Homo sapiens: one gene and its partners. The protein of the gene in region 1 purifies or fractionates together with the protein of each later gene. This does not show direct contact. Each region holds a gene or a part of one and is shown on either strand. Other genes may lie near its edges. The genes, in order: DDX31, PIGR, NUCB1, CP, DMBT1, GC and PRR4.

What was found.
Region 2: the proteins of DDX31 (region 1) and PIGR purify together in Homo sapiens (affinity purification with mass spectrometry; 2 studies listed by BioGRID and IntAct, with this or other methods). This does not show direct contact.
Region 3: the proteins of DDX31 (region 1) and NUCB1 purify together in Homo sapiens (affinity purification with mass spectrometry; 2 studies listed by BioGRID and IntAct, with this or other methods). This does not show direct contact.
Region 4: the proteins of DDX31 (region 1) and CP purify together in Homo sapiens (affinity purification with mass spectrometry; 2 studies listed by BioGRID and IntAct, with this or other methods). This does not show direct contact.
Region 5: the proteins of DDX31 (region 1) and DMBT1 purify together in Homo sapiens (affinity purification with mass spectrometry; 2 studies listed by BioGRID and IntAct, with this or other methods). This does not show direct contact.
Region 6: the proteins of DDX31 (region 1) and GC purify together in Homo sapiens (affinity purification with mass spectrometry; 2 studies listed by BioGRID and IntAct, with this or other methods). This does not show direct contact.
Region 7: the proteins of DDX31 (region 1) and PRR4 purify together in Homo sapiens (affinity purification with mass spectrometry; 2 studies listed by BioGRID and IntAct, with this or other methods). This does not show direct contact.

What each region holds. Positions count from the first base shown.
Region 1 is NC_000009.12:132,659,984-132,663,483, forward strand, and holds part of DDX31 (ATP-dependent DNA helicase DDX31), read right to left. Parts: intron 3,435-3,500; exon of another isoform or gene 3,389-3,434; intron 3,344-3,388; exon of another isoform or gene 3,242-3,343; coding exon of another isoform or gene 3,239-3,241; intron 2,713-3,238; coding exon 2,456-2,712; intron 2,354-2,455; coding exon 2,278-2,353; intron 1,269-2,277; coding exon 1,225-1,268; intron 1,218-1,224; exon of another isoform or gene 984-1,217; intron 1-983. UniProt on the Homo sapiens protein: May have DNA helicase activity and RNA helicase activity. Probably have ssDNA and RNA dependent ATPase activity. Plays a role in ribosome biogenesis and TP53/p53 regulation through its interaction with NPM1.
Region 2 is NC_000001.11:206,936,467-206,939,966, forward strand, and holds part of PIGR (polymeric immunoglobulin receptor precursor), read right to left. Parts: intron 2,998-3,500; coding exon 2,653-2,997; intron 1,286-2,652; coding exon 629-1,285; intron 1-628.
Region 3 is NC_000019.10:48,906,812-48,910,311, reverse strand, and holds part of NUCB1 (nucleobindin-1 precursor), read right to left. Parts: intron 1-3,500. UniProt on the Homo sapiens protein: Major calcium-binding protein of the Golgi which may have a role in calcium homeostasis. Acts as a non-receptor guanine nucleotide exchange factor which binds to and activates alpha subunits of guanine nucleotide-binding proteins (G proteins).
Region 4 is NC_000003.12:149,219,030-149,223,039, forward strand, and holds the start of CP (ceruloplasmin precursor), read right to left. Parts: upstream 2,801-4,010; 5' UTR 2,764-2,800; coding exon 2,618-2,763; intron 1-2,617. UniProt on the Homo sapiens protein: Multifunctional blue, copper-binding (6-7 atoms per molecule) glycoprotein. It has ferroxidase activity oxidizing Fe(2+) to Fe(3+) without releasing radical oxygen species. It is involved in iron transport across the cell membrane.
Region 5 is NC_000010.11:122,577,754-122,581,253, reverse strand, and holds part of DMBT1 (scavenger receptor cysteine-rich domain-containing protein DMBT1 isoform e precursor), read right to left. Parts: intron 3,444-3,500; coding exon 3,414-3,443; intron 2,537-3,413; coding exon 2,495-2,536; intron 1,677-2,494; coding exon 1,353-1,676; intron 389-1,352; coding exon 359-388; intron 1-358.
Region 6 is NC_000004.12:71,781,280-71,785,467, forward strand, and holds the start of GC (vitamin D-binding protein isoform 1 precursor), read right to left. Parts: upstream 2,801-4,188; 5' UTR 2,776-2,800; coding exon of another isoform or gene 2,740-2,775; coding exon 2,682-2,739; intron 1-2,681. UniProt on the Homo sapiens protein: Involved in vitamin D transport and storage, scavenging of extracellular G-actin, enhancement of the chemotactic activity of C5 alpha for neutrophils in inflammation and macrophage activation.
Region 7 is NC_000012.12:10,846,676-10,850,969, forward strand, and holds the start of PRR4 (proline-rich protein 4 isoform 2 precursor), read right to left. Parts: upstream 2,801-4,294; 5' UTR 2,763-2,800; coding exon 2,699-2,762; intron 1,733-2,698; coding exon 1,697-1,732; intron 693-1,696; coding exon 388-692; coding exon of another isoform or gene 370-387; intron 1-369.

The DNA of each region.
Region 1 (3,500 bases):
CCTGAAAATGGTGAGGCAAACCAGAGACTGGCCATTCTATTAAACTAATTCTTTTAAAAATGGGACAGGCAGCCGACTGCAGTGGCTCACACCTGTAATCCCTGCACTTTGGGAAGCTGAGGTGGGTGGATCACCTGAGGTAAGGAGTTTGACCAGCCTGGCCAACATGATGAAACCCCATCTCTACTAAAAATACAAAAAATTAGCTGGGAGTGATGGCACGCACTTGTAATCCCAGCTACTCAGGAGGTTGAGGCAGGAGAATCGCTTGAACCTGGGAGGCAGAGATTGTAGTGAGCCAAGATCGCACCACTGCACTCCAGCCTGGGCAACAAGAGCAAAACTCCGTCTCAAAAAAAAAAAAAAAAAGAAAAAGAAACAGGCATGACAACAAATCAGAGTTACCACCAAGTGTATCACACACTCTTGCCCTCACTAACAGGAATATGAAACACAACGAAACATAATGGAAAGGTTTCCATGCAGGATAGCAGGAGGAAGCTCGCCAACTATTCAGAGAGCCAGCAGCAGCTGTCCATTCTCCAGGAAAAGGTTATGGACATGCTGAAATGTGTGTCTACACATGTATTTTAAAACAAGAAACAAAAGAGACACAAAAATCACTTAAATTTGGTTGATAAAAAACTTGTGGGGAGGTCCCTTAATTTGGACTTTAATATTCCTATTAATTTTTACTAGTAAAAGTAAAAAATCATTATGAAAATGCACAGAAGCACAAATACTCAAAACAAGGAAGCTCATCTCCTCGCACCTATTTTACTTCTTTATTTTCCAGGAGTCATTCCCTGTAACAAACATTGAAAACATTTTTTCAGTATCCCACTCTATCCAACTGAACATTTACTCTTGTCTTTTTGGTTGACCCTAATTCTTACTACTAAGAAACGACATGGTCACATGCTATATTTTGGCCAAATTCTTTTCAGGGAAGCACAGAAAACAGCGGCGCTCATGCAGCCCACCTTCTGGATGAGACGTCTCTTGCGGTTCAGAGCCAAGGGCAGAACTGGATGGAAAGCCAGTCTTTCCATTTAACAGGTGGAGAGAATGAGTAGCTAAGTGAGACGACAACCCTTTATGGTCGATAACCTGGCACTGTGTTCCAACGCCAAGACACAAATTTGCTCTGCCTTGCACACACAGGTTTCGTCCGGTTATACCCACGTAATGCCTAAGAAATCAAGAGGAGCCTGAAGTTCTTACCTGGTCATACTAGACATTTTTAAGACCGTATTTATTGTGGAAATCTAAAAGAGGAGATGAAAAAGCTTTAATTAATATTTTGATACAAAATATTTAACGGAAATTACACAAGAAAGGAGAAACTATTGAGAGAACATTGACTACTATGATCAAATTAAGTTCCTCCACCCAGGTGGTGCTCTCTACTTGGGGCGATTCTGCCACCCGCCCTAACTCCCTGGGGACACAGGGCAAAGTCTGGAAAAATTTGTGCTTGTTATAACCAGGGGAGGGGGGCACTGCTGGCATCTAGTGGGTAGAGGCCTGGGATGCTGCTGAACATCCTACAGTGCACAGGACAGTCCCCAAAACTAAGACTGACCTAGTCCAAAATGTCCACAGCACCAAGGCTGAGAAACCCTGATCCACCCCCCAGGTGAGAAAACAAGTTTAGGTAACCCACCCTACAGAAGGGGTAGTAAGCTGTAACCGAAAGTGCAGAGGAAACCAAGCCTGCCTAAAAGTTAATATATTTTTTTCTTCTTACTCATGAGTCTGGAGAACTCACTTTTTTTCCTTTAAAGTGTCCATTTGTTTGTAGAACACACACCAAAATACTCTTCTTCCCTTACTTCTCTAAAACTGTGGACGTCCTTTAACAGCAAGATGCCAGCACAGTTCCCTCTCCTATGGCCACTGTGACATCTGCCACCACAAATGGCTTCACCACTACAACTATCCAGTAAATAGGGAGCTGTTTTAAGTTTAGCAAGTGATGTCCTGACCCTAAATCACGTTAGTCGAGGAAAGTCTTCAATACTTAAAAAAACACACACACAAAAACACAAAAAAACAGAGGATGGGGGAAGGGGGGGCCAGAAAACAGTGAACAGTAACCTAAGCACCCTTGAACTGTCCTAGAAGAGTATCATATCAATCTGAGTTCATTCAGGTAACTTAGAGCAGAAACAAACACTCTCTGATCTCTCCTCCTAGAGCGGCCATTTCACAGACCTTCTGAACGGACAAACACACCAAAAAAAACTGACCCAGAAAACACTGAAAGGTACTTACTAAATGTGGGTGGAGGCCCAGCTCATGAAAAGCAGCTGAAGTAAACACTTTTTCTTGCACCTGCTTTACCACAGGTCTGCAAATGATGAACAAGAACCCAGGCATCAGTGCCAATATTAACAAAGAAAAGGCAGAACACATTTTTTTCTTCCTGAAGGGCATCCGCCCCTGGACATACCTGTGGAGTTCTGGAATGTCAGGGTTGTTTTTAAACAGTGATGAAGTCTTAATGCACTGTCTCTCCTCCTGGTTTCTATCACTTGTGCTAACCGAATGCTTCTTTGGAGAAAACATTTTTTGTGCGTTCCCCTTAAAAGTCCTCTGAGTTTCTTTAACACTAGTTTTCTTGGCTGGGAGAAATGAAGTTTCGTTCCTCCGTTTCGCTGGGGGAGCCTCACTGGACGCTTGGTATTTTCTTTTCGTAGCCTTTGCTTGCTGCGTTGTTCCCAGAAGGAAAGATCAACAAGAGATGCATTAGTCCATGAAAACAGAGCTCGGAGTGAAGCCTGACTGCCCACAGAATTGCATCTCTCCCTGCAGAGATCATTATGCCCCATATGTCAAGCAACAGTTTAGGGTTTGCAATCAGACTCTTTGACTCAGCTTCTTCCAAAAGGTAAAGAAAAGAAAAAAGAAAAAAGTCTCAGCTCACTCATCTACCAGACCTCACCAGCCATTCTTAACTGTTAAATCAATCAAGATAAGGTAAGGATGAAGAAGCAGCATTTTTCCAGTTGAATGTTAACTAATGGAGTCTGTTTTAAGGGAAGCAAGAATCCACCTTGTGAAGGGTGTGTCAATCCATATTCCTAGGAACCCATTCACCCAAGGAGAAAAGAGGGGTGGGGGAAAACGAATCTTTTCTCTCCACCAACAAAGCACACTGGAGACCGCACAGGAGAGAGGGGCGAGGGGGAATGCGCATCTCAGCCCGTGCCCAGGAAGCGGAAACATTCATTACCATTCTACCCTAGCGCCTGGATCTCTCTCATTCTCTCCTCTCAAGCTGCTCCTCCAGATTCAGACGGCCTGGAGAAAATTCCTACGCCCTGTTCCCATTCCAAATGAGAATGCTGCTCCATCCATCACCTCTACCACAATTACTTCCTACCTCCCTTGCCTTTCGAGTCTCTGAGTCCCCGAGTCTCTGCCTGATTGCGGATTACAGGCTACACAGCACTAGGGATCTCTTGCCTGTTGCTTCTTATTTCCATTACAGGAAT
Region 2 (3,500 bases), on another chromosome or scaffold:
TTGGAACTGCAAGTACTGGTTTGCTGCTTCTCACGAGGGCAACTCTATGCAGGGTGCTCTGGGATGAGAAGGAGCTGGGATTTAATTCTTTCACCATGCTGATGGCTCACTGGAGTAGGGCTGAGTGGGCCAGATGGTGCTGAAATTCACAAATAACCCTACGAAATGTGACAGTGAAACATTTAGAGGCTGGGGCACTCCTGGGAACGCATTGAGACCAAGATAAGCCAATCCTTTTTCCATCTGAATGTGAGGGATGAGGCACCCATCTTGTTCAGGGGCCAGGGGAGGGGACAGAGGACCCCTGCAGAGCCTGCCACAGCCCTGAAACACAGTCTATAAGTCCTGCCTCAATCAAGAGCTTTACTCACCTCTTGCTTGTTAAGCAGGGACAGCCATCAAAATGACTTTGATAACAGAAGAGTAATTAGGAGCTGCCATCAGGCAGAGGTTGCTTTTTCTTGCTGTCCTGTGCAGCAGCCCACGCAGCCTCCAGTTCGGGGCTGGTCATTGAGTGGATGCTGTTGGCTGATTGATGACTATTGATGAATACACTCAGAGGGAGCTGAGCTTGGCTCTCACCTGCGAGACTGCCCCACCTACTCCCCCTCCCTCTCTAGGGTCTTACCCTCATTGACGAAGAGTTGCCAGGCCTGGATAGGCGAGCCTTCCTGCAGCTGACCATCCGAATGGGCTCCACACAGGTAGCGCCCTGCATCCTCCTTCCTCAGGCCTGTGATCACCACACTGAATGAGCCATCCTTGTCCTGGGGGTTGAGCAGGATCCTGCCCTCAAAGGCTGGGGCCCTCTTCCCCAGGGTGTTGACGACCACGTCACAGTTTTCCCCACTGCTCTGTCGGCACAGAAATTTGGCCACGTTTGCCACCTCAGGGCCCAGGGCACAGTGGAAGGTCACTGAGCCCCTCAGGTCTTCATAAACCAGCTCGGGCTCGGGCTTTAGCACTTGGAGGTCAGCATTCTTCTTATTACTATTGGAATCATCCCCAGCCTGGCAGAGATACTGCCCAGCATCGCTGAGCCTGAGTTGGTTGATGACAACGCTGAACAGTAACTGGCCAGTACCCTGAATATCAAGGCGTATTCTTCCTGTATAGTTGGGATTTACATAACCACTGGAGTCGATGACCAGCACAGGGTACAGGCCTATCTGCTTGTACAAGGACTTCCTCTTTTGAGCATTCTCAGTCTTGAAAGGGCAGTTGATGGTCACCGTTCTGCCCAGGTCCACTGTGTAGACTTTAGTGTCATTTAGGAGCCCAGGACCTGCAGGATGAGGGGTGCAAGGTAGGGGGCAGGCAAGTTACGATTCTACTTTCTTGCAACATAGGACTATTTGCTATTCCTAGTTAGGGTGTGGGTGGACTTATAACCTGGAATGCCCTCCTTCCCAGAGGAATGCTGTCGGAAGGCCCAGCTTGACAGCGGTCTTCTCCATGAAACCTTTCCCAAGCTAACACTAATCTCTCCCTGCCCTGTGCTTTCTTGATACATCTGCATCACTTATTACATCCAATCTGGTGTATGGGTAATTATGTTCTCCATGGACTGGAAGTTCCTTGAAGGCTGGAACATGTTTTTCTCATGTTTGACCCCTCTGCTGTGACAAGCACAATGCCTCTGGGTAGTAGGTGGCCAAATTAATGTGTGCTGAAATGAACAGAATGAATGTAAATGCAGGGTGATGGATTTCAACGCATACAATAGAAGTTTCTAAAAATTACAAGAGTCTAAATGTGAAATGGGCTGTCTCAGGGAGCAGTGAGTTTCTGCTAAAGTGCTTAATCAGAGGCTGCATACCCGTCATCAGCATGTTCTTCTAAGTGTCCGGTTAGGGTGAACTCTAAGCCCTCTTCACCTCTAAAGATTCTGTGGTTTTGAATCTTGATCCCCACCTAAATGACCTCCTCATTTAGTCCACAGACAATAGTATGCATATTCCAAAGGAGCAAGACATGTCTTTGGGAGTCCCCCTGAATTTCTTTTCTCCGTAGACCTCTCTTTTGAGTTGCCCTTGACTATCTAAAACAGCCTCATTGTTAAACCCTTGTCAGAAAGAGCTTTTCTTTTTTTCTCTTTCTCCAACTAGAATAGGCTTGTTAGCAACCCATCCTTTCAGGATCTTGGTCTTTGGTCAAGATCTAATAATCTAATTTACCCTGATAATACCAAAAGACTAAGGGTTCCCAGGTTAAAAAAAAAATATGCATTTTACAAGAAGCCTTTTGGCGGCCCAAACCTTGATGGAAAGGTGCATTAATGATAGGAATTTAAGGATCCCTGTAAATCTCTCCCTACCTTTTCTATCTCCTTAGCCTGATGTCAGATTTCCCTTTCTACCTGTAGCAAACACCAGAAAACTTGTCCTTCTGATACCCTTCTAAGCTGGGGTCTCCAGAAAGCCTAAAATGTTATAGGCCACCAAGTCCTAGAAGGGTTCACTCATCACCCCCAAGTAGGCCCTATCTGTCTCCTTCTCCTGTTAAAGAAGTCTTTGCCTGGGGAAAGGGGTGCCTTCTGACCCCCAACCCGGCTACACATCCTTGTCAGGAAGTTCCTCCTCAAGCCCTCCATGCACCTTAGAGAATTCCCTCTAACTTTCCCCCAGAAGCCCAAGGAGCTTGGATCCTTACCCTGGCTGACCTCCAGGCTGACATCAAAGGACAGGCCTCGGCTATTGATGCCCAGGCCACACTTGTAGCGCCCGGAGTCATCCTGGCTCAGCTGGGCAATGTTCACCACAAATGTGCCGTTCTCCGGGAAGTTGGTGAGGTTAGCCCTGCCTGCATATTTGCTGGAGACGTAGCCCTCCGAGGAGATGAGGGTTATGCAGCCACCTCTAGCTCCCTGCCGGCACCAGTACTTCCGGGTGTGCCGGTTGACAGAGGTGGGTGGGTAGTAGCACGTGATGGACACTGAGTTACCTTCCACACTATTCACCTCCTCGGGACCAAATATGGGACTCTTCGTGGAGATGGCTGTGGGAACAGAAGAGAGAGGCTTTCTGAGGCCCTTGGGAGGTAAAGCCTGTTCCAGATAACCCACTATGAGTAGATGTGGTTTTCTACCTGACACGTAGGCCCTGTGTTGATAATTTATCATATATCACAGCTGGAAAATTGCTGAGATTAAATAAAGTGACTGTTTTAATCATGATTAAATTGGAATTGTTATTCATTAATGATAACCATTTCAAGGACAAGGGAATGACAAATTTATGATAACCCTTGTTTTTTATTTTATATATTTTTATTGTTTTGAGACAAAGTCTCTCTCTGTCGCCCAGGCTGGTGTGCAGTGGCACGATCTCGGCTCACTGCAACCTCCGCTTCCCAGGTTCAAGCGATTCTCATGCCTCAGCCTCCCAAGTAGTTGGGACTACAGGTGCATGCTAGCTAATTTTGGTTTCTATTTAGTAGAGACAAGGTTTCTCCATGTTGGCCAGGCTGGTCTTGAGCTACTGACCTCAAGCAATCCACCC
Region 3 (3,500 bases), on another chromosome or scaffold:
AAGATCAAGAGATTGAGACCATCCTGGCCAACATGGTGAAACCCCATCTCTAATAAAAACATAAAAAATTAGCTGGGCATGGTGGTGCGCACCTGTAGCCCCAGCTACTTGGGAGGCTGAGGCAGGGGAATCACTGGAACCTGGGAGGCGGAGGTTGCAGTGAGCCGAGATCACGCCACTGCACCAGCCTGGTGACAGAGTGAGACTCCGTCTGAAAAATAAATAAATAAAATAAATACATACATACAAACAAAAGAAAAACATCAAAATTTTTGATAAAGCATCAACCAATCTTAGGGGTTAAATTGCACGCTCCTAAGTTTCTATGTTGAAGTCCTAAGCCCCAGTACCTCAGAATGTGACCTGATTTGGAGACTAGGTCTTTACAGAGGGAATCAGGTTAAGATGAGGTCATTACTGTGGGCCCTAATCCAACATGATTGGTGACCTTATAAAAGGCAGAAATTTATGACTGGGCACAGTGGCTCATGCCTGTAATCCCAGCACTTTGGGAGACTGAGGTGGGAGGATCACTTGGGCTCAGGCATTCGAGACCAGCGTGGGCAACATGGTGAAACCCCATCTCTACAAAAAATATAAAAATTAGCTGTGTGCAGTGGTGTGTGCCTGTAGTCCCAGCTGCTCAGGAGGCTAAGGCAGGAGAATCACTTGAGCGTGGGAGGGGGAGGATGCAGTGAGCCGAGATCGCACCACTGCACTCTAGCCTGGAGGATAGAAGTGAAACCCTGTCTCAAAATAATAATAGGCCGGGCGCGGTGGCTCACACCTGTAATCCTAGCACTTTGGGAGGCCAAGGCGGGTGGATCACCTGAGGTCAGGAATTCGAAACCAGCCTGCCCAACATGGCAAAACTCCATCTGTACTAAAAATACAAAATTATCCAGGCGTGGTGGCGCGTGCTTGTAATCCCAGCTACTTAGGAGTCTGAGGCAGGAGAATCGCTTGAACCTGGGAGGCAGAGGTTGCAGTGAGCTGAGATCGCGCCACCGCACTCCAGCCTGGGCAACGAGAGCAAAACTCTGTCTTGGAAAAAAAAAAAAATAATAATAATAATAATTAATAAAAAATAATAATGGAAGGAGAAATTTGGGCCAGGCACACAGAGAGGAAAGATGGTGTGAAAATGCAGTGAGAAGACGGCCATCTGCAAGCCAAGGAGAGGGGCCTGGTACAGATCCTCCCTCATAGCCCCAGAAGGAACCAACCCTGCCAATACTTTCACTTTGGACTCTGACTGCAGGCCATGAGACAGTCAAGTTCTGTTGCTGAAGCACCTGGTCAGTGGTACTTGGTTACAGCGGCCTCAGCAAACAAGTGCAGCCTCCCTCATATGGGAGTTTCCAAGTAGTCAGGAAGGGGTAGGGTTTCCAGGCAGGAAAGGACAGCGCACACGCTGCCAACACACACTTACCGCACGCATGTCTCCCGAGGCTTCTAGGGGCCCAGGCCTGCGCTGTGCAATGCTGGACCCAAAATGAATCAGCCTGGCCCTGGCCTCCAGTGGCCCTTGGTTAGGTGGGGAGAAAGACACACACACACACACACACACACACACACACACACACACACCCCTTGGTCAAGTGGGCAGAAAGACACACACACACACACACACACACACACACACACACACACACACACACACGGGCAGCTAGAATTTGGGAGACCTAGGCTGCAGTGGAGGCAGCTCCGGCCCTGGCTGAGCCCAGAGGAGTGACAGGTGTGCAGGACACAGGTACAAACTGAATCTCAAATTCATTATTTGTGCCAGGGACGTGTGTTGAGCCGCTATTCCAGGCTGACCCAGCGCCGGCCGCTATGGACACAGCAGGAATCAAATGATGACAGAATTCTGACTCTTGGAGGCCAGGCGGGGTGGCTCATGCCTGTAATCTCAGCAATTTGGGAGGCTGAGGCGGGTGGATCACCTGAGGTCAGGAGTTTGAGACCAGCCTGGCCAACATGGTGAAACCCTGTCTCTACTAAAGATACAAAATTAGCCAGGTATGGTGGCGGGCACCTGTAATCCCAGATACTCAGGAGGCTGAGGCAGGAGAATCGCTTGAACCTGGGAGGCAGAGGTTGCAGTGAGCCGAGATCGCGCCACTGCACTCCAGCCTGGGCGACAGAGTGAGACTCTGTCTCAAAAACAACAACAACCAAAAGAGTTCTGCCTCTTGGAGCACCCAGTCTAGAGAGACAGAGAACAGGCGACCAAGGGATGAACAAAGGAATACCAAGGACACAAATAACACAGAGGCTCCTTCACACAGGACAGCCGGGGCGGTGACACCCTGAGGAGGTGACATTCCAGGGGAGATGGAAGGTCCATGGACCAGGCAAAGAGCCCTGAGAAAGAATGTCACGGGAGAGCGGGGCGAACGGACAAAGGTCCCAAGGCTGCACGCCAGCAATTTCTAAAAATGCTGACGCAAGAAGGTCAGGGTGCATACGGGAAGGGCAGGGTTGGGCGGGTGTGGCCAAGGTCCACCCAGGCTCCGAGCAGACAAGAGGAACATGAATGCGGGCCTGAGGGCACTGGGGTGCCGGGGGCAGGCTCTGGGCAGAGGAGGGACGGGAAGAGCCTGGGTGTTGTGGCAGCTGGATACTGGTGCCCTAAAAGATATCCACATCCTGATCCCCGGAACCTGTGAATGCGTGACCTTTCCGGGCTAAGGGGTCCTGGCGGATGGGATTACATTAAAGACCTTAAGATGGGGGCCAAGGCTGGTGGCTCAGGCCTGTAATCCCAGCACTTTGGAAGGCCGAGACAGGAGGATCACTTGAAGTCAGGAGTTCAAGACCAGCCTGGCCAACATGGCAAAATCAAGTATCTACTAAAAATACAAAATTAGCCAGGTGTGGTGGCACACACCTGTAATCCCAGCTACTTGGGAGGCTGAGGCAGGAGAATTGCTTGAACCCAGGAGGCGGAGGTTGCAGTGAGCCGAGATCGCGCCACTGTAGTGCAGCCTGGGAGACAGAGCAAGATTCTGTCTCACCAAAAAAAAAAAAAAAAAAGGCCAGGCGCGGTGGCTCACACCTGTAATCCCAGCACTTTGGGAGGCCGAGGTGGGCGGATCACGAGGTTAGAGATCAAGACCATCCTGGCTAATACAGTGAAATTCCGTCTCTACTAAAAATACAAAAAATTAGCTGGGCATGGTGGCGGGCGCCTGTAGTCCCAGCTACTTGGGAGGCTGAGGCACAAGAATGGCGTGAATCCAGGAGGCGGAGCTTGCAGTGAGCCGAGATTGCACCACTGCACTCCAGCCTGGGTGACAGAGCGAGACTCTGTCTCAAAAAAAAAAAAAGAAAGATATTAGCTGAGCAAGGAAAAACAGTGTGACCTGATAAATCTCCCGATTTTATCGCTGTACTTATGCAAGAGTATCACACTGAAATGTGTAAGGGTGATGAGATGGTGACTGTGGTGAAGTCCCAAACGTGAGTGACAAAGCAAATGGAGCAAATGTTAACTA
Region 4 (4,010 bases), on another chromosome or scaffold:
GGACAAAGAAGGGACCAAAAGGTTGCTATCTGCACACATCTATGCAAAAAGTTTAGCATAGTATTGGCAAAATTGCTGAAGCTGTATTCAAAATTCACTGGTAAGATATATGGGGGAAAAAAATCACAGAGAAAGCAGTCCCACCTAGAGTTTGCAAAACTGTAGCATATTGTTGAAGCCAGAGGAGATGTTAAAGTCACAGGACAATAACAAAAAGAGAGGTGGACTTTGCAACTAGAAGATGCTCCATTTTTCCTTTTAAGGAGCCTTAAGTATCTCTATTAAGTATACTTTTTAAGTAACTGATATGGTTTGGCTGTGTCCCCACCCAAATCTCACCTTGAATTGTAATAATCCCCACATGTCAAGGGAGGGGGCCAGGTGGAGGTAACTGAATCATGGATGTGGTTTCCCCCATATTGTTCTCATGGTAGTGAATAAGTCTCATGAGATCTGATGGTTTTATAAATGAGAGTTCCCCTGCACAAGCTCTTTCTTGGCTGCTGCCATGTAAGACGTGCCTTTGCTCCTCCTTTGCCTTCTGCCATGATTGTGAGGCCTTCCCAGCCATGTGGAACTGTAAGTTCATTAAACCTCTTTTTCTTTATAAATTACCCAGTCTTGAGTATGTCTTTATTAGCAGTGTAAGAACAGACTAATACAGTAAATTGGTACCTGGAGTGGGGCACTACTGTAAAGGTACCCAAAAATGTGAAAGTGACTTTGGAATTGGGTAGCAGGCAGAGGCTGGAATAGTTTGGAGGGCTCAGAAGAAGATAGCAAGATGTGGGAAAGTTTGGAACTTCCTAGAGACTTGGAGGGCTCAGATGACAGGAAGGTATGGGAAAGTTTGCAATGTAAGACATGCCTTTGCTCCTCCTTTGCCTTCCACCATGATTGTGAGGCCTCCCCAGTCATGTGGAACTGTGAGTCCATTAAACCTCTTTTTCTTTATAAATTACTCAGTCTTGAGTATGTCTCTATTAGCAGCATAAGAAGAGACTAATATAGTCACAATGGGGTAAACAGGCTTATACTCATTGGGTAGCTTCCCTGGCACAGACAGGCCACAGGAGTAATTAAAAACAAAGGAATTTCCTCCGCCCCCATTCACCAAATTCTAAACAAACTCCTTCACTCTTCTACTCCCTGATTTTTAGAATTAAAGATTTTTTTTTGAAGCATATTCAGGGCAATGTCTTGCACTTAGTTTATGCCTGATAAAGCTGATTTGATTTTTGATCACGAACAATGGCAGAGTGGTGGTGAGTGGGGGCATAGAGAAGGATAGTATTTTTATTTTTTTAATGTGTCTGACTTTTTCCTTGGAAATAAAAACCACATATAATTTATATTATATTTAATCAAGAAAATACTGAATCCATGCAAAATAATGTTTCTGGTGAAGCTGTAAAAATATGTCATATTCCTTAGAAGATAATACCACCTTAAAACCAGGTTAAAAAAGAAATAATTACAAGATGTATTAGTTTTATTTACAACCACTTATCTTCAGGTCAGAAACTTTCTTTATTGTATATTATTAAATTCATAATATAATAATTGGATATTAGTATCTGTTATGTATTTATTTTTATGGTGAAAAATTTCAACTTTACATAATGTTAAAGAAAATAGTATATACTCATCAATAAGATTCAATAATTACAAACTTCGGCATCCTTATTTAGCTGTTTTTTAAAGATATAATCTTGGCAGCTGATGGTCATTGGGCTTGTTTGTGTTTTATTACCACTGAAATACATTTTAATGTAGTGAATATTGATTTTGAATTCCAAGTTCCCATTTGGTGGTTAATGTTTAATTAACATCATTAAAAGTGAAGACCTCAGTATAGATAAACTTCTGTACAAAAAACTTCAAGGAGAACTAAACTTTTTGTTTTACTGTGTAGTGAATATTGCTTTCAATAAGGGGATTTTCCAACTGAAAAATGAAGACATTTAAGTTACATGGAGCTTTTTGAGGACCATCCTAATAAGTACCTGACATTTTTTTATGCACATATGTGCCAAGCATTGTACTAAGAGCTTTACATGCACCCGCTCTTTAAATAACCCTATGAGCTATGCTTATTATCCTCATTTTACAAATTAGGACCCTGAAGCTGTGAAAGATTAACCTACTTAACTGTCTGGAGTCTCTCAATAAATATCAGGCAGGATCTTATTTGCTAAAATTGTATTTTATTTCTATAAGTGATGTTTTGAAAGATATAAAAAAATTTTATGCCTATCATGAATAACCATTAAATGGTGCAATAAACATAACATTGTATACAGTAATTGTTTAAATGAAAGAACTTCTGCATAAACACATAAAAAGACAGATTCCTAATCGGAGATGCAGTTACGACCATGGGAGGTAGTAAGATGTGAACACAGATCCCCAGGAACAACAGGAAAGAAGCAGGGTAGTCCACCAAATAAAAAATATACAGGAATATAAAGGAGATTGATTCAAGTGTCTTGGGTTTCAAGCCCACATTTTGCAGTTTCTGTATATAAGAAATTTTAAAAATATTTCATCTTATTGGCTCTATCCTTTAAAAATAACTTAAAATTTTGGTCTATAAACAATAAAAATAGTGACTTACGTGTCAACAGAAATAAGTTTCTTTTCCCCATGGTCAGAGGCATAATCCCAAGTCGTTTCAATAATTCCAATGTAATAATGCTTTTCTTTCGCCCAGGCTGGGGTACTACATAAAAACAGAAAAATACCAAGTATCAAAATCTTCATTTTTTTCCCCTTCTTGGAGCCTGAGAAGAAATGAAGTAAAATCAGGAGCAGGCAATTTTATAAATAAGACTTTCTTCCTTATTTGCTTGATTGACACAATTTAGTGTTGCACAAGAGTAAATTGTTTCATTAAAGCAAATATTTTCCAATTCAGTTAAGTTCTCGTAAACCACCAAAAAAACAGTTCTTGGTTGCCAGGCTTCTCTGACTGAAAATAAAAAGTCAACAGTTATTGTTGGAGGCATTAGGGTGTGCATAACTCTGTGCCTTTTTCCATTCATTGTGTAAATTCCAGGAGGGCAGAGAACGTGTCTAAATGCTCCCTTTGTTCCTCTGACAATATGTCACAGCACAGTGTCCTGCAAACAGTGCACTTTTAGTAAATCAGGATAAGAATTATGTAAAATGAATCAAAACATGTAGCTTTTTACTACAGTCATTCTTAATGACAGGGATACGTTCTGAGAAATGCATTGTTAGGCTATTTTGTCATTGTGTGACTATCACAGAGTGTACTTACACAGACTTATATGATATAGCCTACTATACATCTAGGTAGGCTATATGGTATACCTATTGCTCCTAGGCTACAAACCTGTACAGTCTATAACTATGCTGAATGCTATAGACAATTGTAACACAATGATATTTCTGTATCTATACATATGCAAACATAGAAAATGTACAGTAAAAATATGTTATTATAATCTTATGGGACCACCATCACATATGCAGTTTGTCATTTACTCAAACATTATTATGTGGTGCATGACTATTTCTAAAAGTCTAACAAATGATTAATTGCAGCTTTATGATATGAAACATGATATCTAGCATGCCAAATTTAAGTAAACAAAAATAAGAATTTAATTTGGAAGAATTTATCTGTTTTATGAGCTTGGACCAAATCTGCATAAAAACTTTACCAGATCATTCTGTATTGCTATATGCAAATAACTAGCAGAGCCTAACAGGGGCTAATAACTTTGTTTTAATCATCAAATAAACAAACCATAACTAAACCTGTCTTCAGAGGCAAAGATTAGTCTTAGTAAATAGAAAGTACCCCAGTTTATCATTAGACTGAAATTTTTCTCTTTGAAGTGGATATGAATTTTAAGGTGGAAGACTTTTTCTTAAAACCCTGTTTTTAGTCAGGAAGTATATGTCTAAAAGTATGAAATGGCTTTTTTTTTTAGCTGAAGAAAATCCTGATAACAGTTGACACTTTGTGTTAGTATAATTTT
Region 5 (3,500 bases), on another chromosome or scaffold:
CGGGTCAGAGGGTGACACCCTCAATTTTCAGAAACTATATGTGAGTCCGGAATATAAAAGGACCAAAGCTCATTAAACATGGGGCCACTTCCTGAACCTGTAAGGGTTGTCCACTGGGACAGTATGAAACTGTTTCATGAAAGCTGAGAGGGGTTGAAAAGAAGACAGAGGCCTCCTCAATCCTGTGTGTGTTTAAAAAGCGCTGTGCTGGGATCTCAGTTACACAGCCGGTGTTGGGGGTGGAAATAATATGCCCCACAGTATCCACACAGAGAAACAGGAGAGCTCTGTGGAGTGTGGAAGGGGTGATTGGGCAGAAAGAGAAGGGACATTTTGAGGAAGGACACTGGGGACCTACCTGGGCTGGGTGTCGGCCGGGACTGGGGAGCTGTGAGAAAGAGAAGAGAAGGTCAGATCAGGAACATTACACAGAAGTCGGCAAAACTGGAACGAGGAGGGAAAGAAATGAGCGAGTCTGACACTCAGTCCATCCTAGTTCCTATCACACAGGGAGGGACATTGCCATGCACATCCCCACAGAGATGCACCGTGTAAGGGGTCGAGGCAGATCCTGTCCACTATTGCCAGCTCTGAGGTGATCAAATTGTGTCTGCCCAGGGTAACCCGGTTGACCTAAACCAACCCACTCCCTTGCACATCTTAGGTGTTCCTGAGTCAGCAAGGCTGAGGAAGCCACTCCAGCCAAAATCCCTTGTGCGATCTTCAAGCCCCAATCACAGGCAATGACAAGGCCATGTCTGGCTGGCCTCATGGGGACTGCCCTCCCCTCACCAGACCTAGAACACAGGCAATGCTCAGCAGCGTTCTGAGAAGAGCTGAGGTCAAGAACTCCAACCCCACGCAACCCAGGCCTGATACAAACAGACACCCATTTGCACTCCTAACCCTTGAGCCTCTATTTCCAGACCTCCTCACTGGGTCTCAGCTGAGAACCCACTTTTAGCCAAGCATCTTTAGTTCAGAGTTCCTCGCAGTGAGGGGATCCCTCCCCTGCCTTGCTGTCTGTGCTGCATCCATTATACCCTCACACCGTGCTACTCAGCAGGGGAGAAATGGAGCCCTGGGGAGCCGGCACTTTTCTCTTCTGCCTCTTCCTTGCCTTGCCTCAGGAAGGGGAAAAACTCTGGGTTGTTTTAGTTTGATCCCCTGTCCTAAGTGACCACAGGAACACTAGGCAGTGAGTACATATGGATTCTTAGCAGAGAGCTGACAAGTCTTCAGAAACATAGAAAACATAGAAGCTTTGAGTGAGGAGATCAGAATGTAATTAGGAGTTTCTTTTGGAGCAAACTCCACCCCAAGAGAGTGAGCCCAAGTTCTTGAAGGCCCACCTGAGCAGATGACACCAGCGTCTTCACTATGGCCACAGTTGTGGGTGAGCCAGCCATTGTGGGGGCAGCTCCACAGGTAGGACTCATGTCCTGAGCAGCGCACATCATCCAGGACAATGGGTCCTGAGCCCTGGCCAAACTGGGCATTTCCTGGGGCTGACATGGCCCAGCCACAGCCCAGCTGCCTGCAGACCACATTGGCATCATTGGTGTCCCAGTAGTCATCACACACGGTGCCCCAGGAGCCTCGGTATAGGACCTCCACTCGGCCTCGACACCTGTCGCCTCCATTCACCAGCCTCAGGGCCAAACTGGATTCAGATCCTACAGGGGAACACAAGAACCCTTCATCCATCCCTATCATGAGGTCAAGAATCTAAGGTAAGTTCCACACTCAGGGTACTTCCTAATGAACTAAGTCACCTAGGCAGGCAGTCACCTTTGCATATGACCACAGACTAGGCTTCATCACCGTGAAAGTAGCACTGATAACCTACTCTGCCCAGGTCTATGGATGCTCAACTTTTGGGGAAGCACCTGTGACCCCAGTGGATGTGATGGGAATGGATGCCCCACTCCCCAGTTGGGTACACAGAGGATGGAGCTGCTCAGCTCCAGATGGCAGGCCCAGACCCCTCCCTTATTCAGGAGCATGGTCCTATCTGGGATCTGACTGGCAGAGTACCAGAGATGGCAGGGATGAGGTCCCCATAGGATTAGGGAGACCCCCAGGGCTTGTTCTGAGCCCATAGATAAGGATCTTTTCTGACCACTTGGAACAGGATCCCACAGGAGACAGGTCACCAGCACCCTCCACCCTCCAATATCACATCTAATTCTGGGTTTTCAGAGACTCCAGCTTCCTCCCTACCCAACCCACAGAAACATGAAAAAGCAAGGGGCCCACCTTGAGCCTCATCCTATCATGAGCCTAATGATTCCTAATGATCTTCTGGGAGGTCCTGCTCTTGTTCCCAGTGCCGAGCTGACTCTTGAGCCAACTGTTTATCACCTGCTGCCACCCTCCCACGCTTAGCCCACTTCCCCACCTCTCTTTATGGCAATCATAAGTGAACTATGAAATCCAAAGTGTATCCAGAGGTAGAAAGTGAGCCCCAGGGAGTGTTGAGAGGATTCTTTACCTTCTGTGGGTACAGGTGGTGATATCCTGACAGGCCAACTTTCTGTAAACAGCAACAAAGAGAAAGGATACAATTGGACTTGAAGGGAAAAAGGTAAAAAACAAGCGGTTCTCTGGACCAGGCAAGCACTGTGAAAACAATTCCACTCGAAGGTCTGGCCACTTGCTCCCCATGTGTCTGCCCAGGTCTCCTGCCCAGGGAACTCATTCAGGGACAAAGGACACCATGCAGGCCCTTCCACCTCTCTCTGAGAGAGGGATGACCTATTCGCAGTTAGGAAACCTTCACCACCCCCATCCCCCACCATCCACTGACGCGTGGACTGACTGGCTCATCTGACACCACTGCCAAGACTTGACACTTGCAGCTAAAATGTTCGGGATACTAGGGGTCCGCCCTGGGGGAAATCAGGTTTCCTGGTAAGTGAAGGCACCAGAAACATTTCTTAGCCTCTCTCTCCCCTCAGCATGGCCTCTGCCTCTTCTGAATGCAGACGTGGCCCTGCAGAATCTGGGGGTTTTTCAAGTAGTGAGAGATGGGGGTATCAAGCCTGTACTGACCTTGCCTTCAACAGAACATTAGAGGGTCTCACCCTCAATTCTCAGAAAGGTTGTGTCAGCCCTGAATATAAAGAGGCCAAAGCTCATTAAACAGCAGGCTTCTTTCTGAACTTCTAAGAGTTGTTCATTGGGACAGCATGGAACTGTGTGATGAAAGCTGAGATGGACTGAAGAGAAGGCAGAAGCTAAATCCCATGTGTGGTTAAGAAGCCCCATGCTAGGGTCTCAGTTACAGAGTTGGGGGTGAAATAATATGCCCCAGAGTATCTGCAGAGAAGCAGGAGGGCTCTGTGGAGTAGGGAAGGGGTAACTGAGCAGAAAGAGAAGGGGTATCCCGAGGAAGGATTCTGGGGACTCACCTGGCCTGAGTGTTGACTGAGGCTGGGCAGCTGTGAGAAAAAAATAGCAACATTAGACACCAAACACTCAGTGACTCCAAGTAGAGT
Region 6 (4,188 bases), on another chromosome or scaffold:
ATGTAAATGACGAGTTAATGGGTGTCAGCAAACCAACATGGCACATGTATACATATGTATCAAACCTGCACATTGTGCACATGTACCCTAGAACTTAAAGTATAACAATAATAAAAAAGAAAACTTGAATCGAAAAAAAAGAAAAGAAAAAAATGCAAAAAAAATATTTTTAGTGCTCTGTTAACAGTGTGTAACTTAAAACTGAGAATTTTTTTGCTGTAGTTTAATTTTAAAAAATCAATTTTTATAAATGTTTCCTGGTCATTAAGGTAACTTTTCTATCTGCAAGTTAAAAAAAAATTTTATAGCTGTATCACCAGTCTTTGTTACTTGGTTTCTTTGGAAGGGAAGAGGGAAAGATATATTGTATATTAGTATTTCATCCATTTCAGTCCTAGGGGAAGAAGCTACTTGTAGGCAACTGGGAAATACTGCCTTGTTGCTTTTCATAGGGTAGCAAAAGTGGACATTTTCTTATGGTACTAACCAGATTTAGCAGATTTGGTAAGCTCTCTTCTCCAAGATGTACCCAGTGGCTTGGGAACAAGATTCCCAATGCTGTTTGATAGGAGAGGGCTGGCTTAATTGGAACCTGTCCAGTAAAGGGTCATCTGTAACAGTATCCATTTTAGACCCAAGGTTTCCAAAGAATAGTTCCACAGGTATAGACATTGTAGAAAAGGGTCAATATGTTTAGATACTCTGAGTTAGATAAGATTTCTTTCCTGTAGTGTTTCTCAGAACCTTTAGGACGACAAAGGCATGAATTGTGAAACCACCAAGAAGGAATAAATTATGGCTCATTTCTTAAATATATTTGGCCACAGAAACTTCTTTTCAAGGTAAGTCTTGAGTGTAATATATTTTGAAACAGGTGCTTAAATAAATGCTGTGGGTGGTCAGCTCTCTAGAACTATAACAGGCAGAGAAAACTGCAATTCAAACCAATCCCCCACAATACAAGGCTACTCAGAACCTAAGAGTTCTCAGAACTCCCTTAATCTGTACACTTTGTAACTTCCTGCCAGGAAGAACACAGCTAGCTTCTAAGTAAACTGCTGACTTGGTCTTTGGGTCATGCTCAGGTATTAGAGAATAGAGAATTGATAGATCAGGACTACTCTCCCCAAATATTGAAAGTTAATGCTTACAAGTGTATTATGTATGTCTCAAGATATCATCTGGCATATGGCACATGGGTTATAAGAATGAAGTTTAGATCTTCTAGGGGACTGACTGGAGGTTTTTAGCATCCATTTCATCAGAATCTGAGGACTGCTGAGAATGTTGAAATATAGATTGCAGAATGCTCTGTTATTCTCCAAAGGACACTTTCATTCTTTGAGGTGAAGCCAATGTGCACCTATTGAGTCAGCAGTCTAAGATGGTGATTCATGCTCCTGCTTATGGCCTCCATATATAATTCCAATTCCTAGCCATTATTGGACCTTCTGTGTTTGAAGACCCTGATCTGAACCTGCTTCAGTAGGATTTTTCAGGATCAGATCTGCCCCAGCAAATCCTTGGCCAAAAGAATAAGACTTAAAGGGATTTCTTGGAACATGGCCTATTCAGAGGTCTTATAAGGGACACAATTTATGTTGCTTTTTTATACCCTATGCTGTCTGGGAAAGACTTTGTAGTCTTACCTAAGGACGCATAGCTTACTTAAGAATTGATGGGTAAGACGAGTTAAAATAATTTGAATGATGAAATAAGACCAAGGAAAAGTAAATGTAAGAAGAAGAATAAAAAGTCAAGAGTAAGGTTATTCATGTTACAGTTAATAACTGATAATTCTTGGGAACACACATTTTATTCCACTGGCAAAACACATTACTATTATGAATAATAATGTACGAATTAGGTGAGGCTGTTAACTGACAGCACTAAATGAAAACCTTAATTTTACAAAGCAGGATAAATGCAGATGTCCCTTGTGAACATTAAAGAATCAGCCAGAAAAGTAAATTGAAGCTAATGATGAAAAGTTTCCCAGCTGTAGAATTCATAAAGTTGTATACTTCCCATAATCTCAGTCTTTATCATGTAAAAAAATTTTTAAACATTGCCCAAAGATGAACACACCATCTGAAGAATAATTTCAATGAAAAATATAACTGAATTATCTTATTTGTGGTTATGTTTCATAGCTATAGAAAAATTTTATGTGAGGGATATTTTTAAAAATACAATGCATTTTCAAATACTGCATGTATAAGATTCCTCTAAGGGGATCAAAGAAATCTCTAAGTTGACATCATGCATCATTGGCATGGTATATTACACTCAATGGTAATAAATATTTGAAGTCTGAATAAATGCTTAATGGTGGATCACAGTCTTTATTTGCATTATCTTGTAACAATTAGCAAATGTCTAATTTTAAATTATTCTCTCTAGGTCTTGCTTATCAACAAAGGAGGAAGAGATAATTGACAAATTATATCATTCCATTTACTTTCTTTAACAAGATTCTTGTGTTGATTTTTTTTGTCAATTCCAATTCAACATTACATGGCATCGTGGAGCTCTGATTAATGCCTCTCTGGTCCTTATCCCTCTCCCCAACATATTCACCAGTTCTTCTGTTTCTTACTTTTTATTTCATTTTTTAAGTGATAATATAAAATTAAACTAGTAAGAATTCCTGTAAATGGTCACAACAAAAGAAATCTTACCTCTCTCTAAAGCATGTCCAAATGCCACAGCAAGCAGTAGTACCAGGACCCTCTTCATTTTTCTACCAGAGAGTCTTGCAGCACCTCCTCTCTCCTGTAGGTGACCATGTAAAAGTGGTAGCCAAAAGTAATTGGTTTCCTTTTTACAAAGATTCCTGACTATGAATTAATCAATTATTAATCTCAGAAGCAACACAGAATTATTATTAAACACAGAAGCAAGGGGCTGTTATCTTTGGCCCAAAAGAGATAAAATAATATCAATCAAGGTAAATAGACACCCTGGGGATACTGTAGTGGAAAATCTAGGAGATTTTAATCATTAACTTTGTCAAACTGCAAAAGAGCCAAGGTATATAGATTATTTTCCACTGCTGTTCCTCACTAAAGTTTACTTAATATGTTAGTAACGCACACCTTCTCCCCCTGTATAGGGCTGTGTGTCTTCTTTGGACACCCCACCTTTCTCATATGTAAGTGGAAAATCGGAAACTCTGTCTTTACCTCTCTTCCTCTCTTTGTTTAAATCTACTACAAATAAGCATTACCTTAAAATATTGCAGACCAGATGTTCTAAGTAAAAGGGGAAAAAGAGTGAGAAGCCAATTCAACATAATATTTTAAATCCATAATTCTGATGCTATGAAGTAATCTTATTTTAGATGATGGCATAGTACTTTGTATTTCTATGCTGTATTGCACTTTGTGAAGCACTGACATATATATGAAAAATAACCTTTGAAGTGAGGCAAATAACTGGAGAGGTTAAATGGCTCACCACTGCCAATCATAAAAAGTTAGTGGCAAATCTTGGACTCCCTACAGTGATTTTAAAGCTCCTTCTACTAATAGTTTACAACTAGTATATTTTATGGGCATGTAATTTGAGAGCTCAGAGAGGCCCTGTAGGACATGAAATCCAACATCTTCATTTTACAGAAGAGTGAACTGAGCACTGGGTAAATTCTGTGACTTGTCTAGAGAGTCATAGGTAGATCATTCATTGGAATTAGATGAGTTCCACTCCTGGTTTTTGCAGTAGCCCTATTTTCAGGAAATGGTCAGGTACAGGTTGTTACACATGCTCTAAAATCAAATCCCTACTCAGCTTTCATAGCTGTGTAACCTTGGGAAATTTATTTTACCCCTCTAAGTTTCATTTTCCTCATATGCAATGTGGTGATAACTCAGTACATTTGACACAACATTGCTATGAGGTTAATTAAGGTAATCTGGGTGCAGGGCTCATGGTAACATCCATCACATAGTAACATGGATTAATGTCACCTATTACTCTTATTCTAGTTATTGCCACGTTCTCCCACTGGCTTTCCAAATTTATAATATCTGTGAAGGTCAATGAAACTAATGAGGCCATTGGAACTCAGTGGAAGAGTTTAAAGACAGCCCTGTGTCCAGGGTCCCGCAGATAAGTGATTTAAAACTTCATTATCAACTCAGTAGCCAAGGATTATCTACATGGGCAGAGTCTATCAAAATTTCAGTA
Region 7 (4,294 bases), on another chromosome or scaffold:
CTGGCGGAAACCTGAGAGAAACCTGAGATGGAGAGTCCTTGGGTTTGAGAAGGCAGACTCAAAGACAGGAGGCAGAGCACCAAAGGGAGAGCACACCCCACTTCCTCATTACCAACTCATTTTAATGAGACAAGTCATCTTAAGAAAAAAGTTGGGGAGGTCAGTATTTCAAAAGATAAGAATTCTTTGAACCACTTGTTAAAAATACAAGGACTTGCAACCTTATCCAAGAATATCTGAATACAAATCTTTAGAAATGGGGTCCAGGATTATGTAATTTCAACATATTTCCAATTGATTTGTGAACACGATAAAGTTTGGGAATGGTAGCAGTTTGGGCATTTAATGGAGAATGAACTGGAATCATACCTGCCACTGAATTCTAGATTACCAGAGTGGTTGCTCCTGGGGATGTCTTGCTGGTCTGTCCCTCTGGAAGAATGATGATGCTTCCTGCAGGCTGACAGAAGGAAATCGGGGTAGAGAGAGTTGACGGTGTCCTCGTCGGGGTGGTCGTTGCTGATTTTGAAAAGGAGGTGGGGGAGGATGGCGGTGATGGCCTCCTGGTTTTGGTGGTCTCTGCTGAGGACCATCATCTTGGTTACCACTATCACCAGGGGGTCTAGGTAGGAGTCCTTCAGGAGGAGGTCTCTGGGGTCCCTGATCTGGTCTCTGACTTGAGTCCTCTACATCTGTGTGAGTAATTAATGGACAAGAATGCATGAGCTCAGTGAAGAAAAACTCTCCTCTCTTTATACTTCTCTCACCTTACCACACAGCCCTGTTCTCCCCAAACCTGCTGCTTGACTGTCAACTTCTTTTGTGCCCACTGTTTTTTTTTTCTTTTTATGCAGCTCTCAACTTAATCCATGTAAGAGTGATATGGAAAGTCTCATTTATTTGCTCCTGTGACAAGTATGTTTCCTTAAATGAAAAGAGGGGTTCTTGCATATCTTAGAGTTGCCAGAGGATGTCTCCAAGGACAGAAAAAAAAAAAAAAGCAAAAGCATTATAGCTTTCAGTTATGTTACTGGTTATTTTTTATTTTTATTTTTTGGTTGCTGTAATGACTTACAAACTGTGACTCCATCTCTGGGCACCTAAGCCCTATGTGGAAACTAGAGCTGATTTCCCAGGCTCCTGGAACCAAGTAGAGAAATACTAAGAGACAGAAGAGAAAGACAATGTGAAAGCCTGCACATGATCACTAAACAGCTGTGGCAACTATTTATCATCTGTAGTGACACAGCTGAGTGGGTCAACACAGAGAAAAGACATTCATGCAGTGATTTTTTTGTTTTGTTTTGTGTTACTCCCTGAAGCCACATAACCGTGCGGGGGAACACTGGGGGAAGAAAGAAGCAGTTAAGGATGGAGGAGTCAGAATGAGAACACTTCTCATTTGTTCATCATCTCTCAGCAGTCATTCCAGCCTGGGAAAAAAGCCTGCCCACTCCTATTGTCCTCAAAGCCAGGCATCTCTGTATTCAAGTTGGTGGCCTGGCTCATGGTCCCCAGAATCAAAGATGGGTAAGAATTGCCTATATATTTAGGGGCACTAATATTAATCAATGCCTGACCCCTCTTACCACCTCCTCCCAAAAAAATGATGAGAAGAAGACACTGAAGGAAACTAAAAAGAAATTCTAGTGGAAAAAGAAAGAAAAGAATTGGATTGAGGATCATTGGGATTTACCTGGTATGGTGAAAGTAAAGTCTTCATAGTTCACATCTAGGAAAAGAAGCACAGGATGAAGTGAACATTACCTCATAAATCTTTCAGGGCTCATAGTGGTCTATAGGGAAAGGGGTCTTCTGGCCACACCCTGTGCATCCCCTAAGTTACCTCATCAACCATGTTCTGTGAAGCTGCTGGAAGGGGAGGAAGATGTTAGGGGAGGCAGGATTGTTACTATCGCTGAGCATCAACCACGAATTCAATAGAAGAGTCCCTTTTTGTCATCCTTAGGATCCCTCAAACCCTAATGCTAATTTAGGCACACTTCTCTGGGTATTTTCATGTCATATTTTAGATCTTTACCTTCTTCCTTCTTTAAATATTTTGATCATATTCACAAGCTTGCCCAAGAGGAGCAACCAGGAGTAAATATTTGGATATAATCTTACACATGCTGCCTGCAACATATTGAAATTTTAAATGTGATTGGAAGAAAAATGGGAATTTGGGGACCTGATATTTCTATACCACTATGTAGAAAGACACAAATGTATTATCCAGTCCTCTATGTCTGACAGTACTCTGATGTTTGTTTATCTCTTTCATTGATTCTGCATCCCCTGTACAGCAAGGACACCATCATCGCTGTCCACTGAGATTACTGTAGCATCTTCATAGCTGGACTTCCCTGGATCAGTCTTGCATTCTCCACTGCATCCTTCACAGCACAGCCAGGTCTTTCTAAAAATACAAATCTTACTTTGTCATTCCTCTAATTGAAATTCTCTATTGGGTTCCAAGTGTATATCAAATAAAGTATAAGGCCTTGGCATGGAATGAGGGCACAACAGATGTCATCCTTGGAATGAGAGCTCCAAAGCCCTACCCTTCTTCTCAACCTCCTTCCTCCCCTCCTGCTCTTCCGCTGCAGTGGTGTAGGGTGAACCCCTGAGGCCCTAGAAGAGTCATGGCCCCTCATCCCACTCCCCATCTCCTTTTTTAAAAAAATAATTTTTTTACCATTATCTGTGCTCTGAGCTGAGCTCAGAGCCAGAAGGACCACTGAGAGCAGGACCAGCAGCATCTTGAAGGAGGCTCTGGAGTTGCTCCCAACTCTGCGTTGAGAGAAACATGGCAGCTCCCTTTATAAACATGAGCAGAACAATGGCACCTTTGAGCTCCATACTGGGTGGACCTCACCACCTGAAAGATTAGGTTTTGCTTTCCTCTCATAAAGTTGAATGCGTCTCTTATTACTTTTTGGGATTTTAGCCCAGCAGGATGTGGTGGTAGGATGTGGTTAGGTACAAACTGTGACTTGAGCATAGTTTCTGAAGAAACAGTATCCAAGCAATCAGCACAAATACTACAATTGAAGTTTGGTCATCATTTGATTTTCAATTGGGTTAGACAGTTAGTCTTTCCCCTTCATTGGTTGTCTGTGTGCACACGTGCTTACGTTTGTATATGTTTGTCAGCAGTGATCTTATAGCCAGAAGTGAAAATGATTAATATCTCTAGCTATTAGTGTAGCATAAATTCCATTTTTATAGCATATATACCTATATGGATGATATGTAGCTTAATTTCATAATAATATAGAGATCATTTCTGTTTAATGTTGAGTTGTGTGAGGACAACACACACTTGGGCACACGTGGATGACAGAAGTTTTACCCTCAGGCTACTCTGGCCCAAAGAGATTAAGATTCTCCTAATCTAGCATTAACCAGAGATACTTTATTGTTGTAGAACACAGGTATTAAAACATTCTATCTTTATTAATACCCTGGAGGTTAGTAAGGCAAAATTGGCCACAGAAAGCACCATTAGATTTCTGCATCAGAACAGTGTGAATACACAGTTCCTTGAACAAGCCATGCTATTTTATGTCCCTAAGACTTCTTCCATGATCTTTCTCTTTTCTAGAATGTTCTATATGATTCAGTTTAGGTCTTACTTCTTGTACCAAATATTTTAATCACACTGGTTATTGAGTGGACACAATAATACAATCTAATTAGATAGTATGATAGCCTGTTGAAAGCCTCAAGTATTACATTGATTTTCTATTTTTTAATTAGTTTCCATTCTATTTGCTTCTCAGATTGCCTTTACCAAAGATTATTTTCTCTGCAATATTCTTATACTCATTCTTCTTCACTCTTGTGCTGAACCTTACTTGTTGATATGTTATATTGTGAATCAATCCTCCCTATGTCTATGTTTTATATCTTACTGCTTTCTTCATGCGTTCTGGGAGAAATCTTTATTTGATTTTCTAAACAAGGTTCTGTACTTCTCTTTGCTTGCTTTCTTCTTTTTTGTTTTTAAAATTTGGCACCAAGGTTTTGTGTTTCTGAAAAGTTTGGTAGGGTCCTGAGTTGGTAGCTTAATCTTCACCTGCTGATTTTTCTGTCCTATCTAGTAGTTTTCTGCTTATATTTTCATGGAACCCCTAGATCAATCAGTATCACCAGCTGCCACTTTTCATTACAGGCATTGTATAGGTCTCGTATTATTGTTACATTTTTGTACAGGGCTGGTGATAATTTGAGGATAGCTTGGTTGGAAGTATGACAGGGTCGGGGGAATGTGACTGGAAATCTTAAAGAC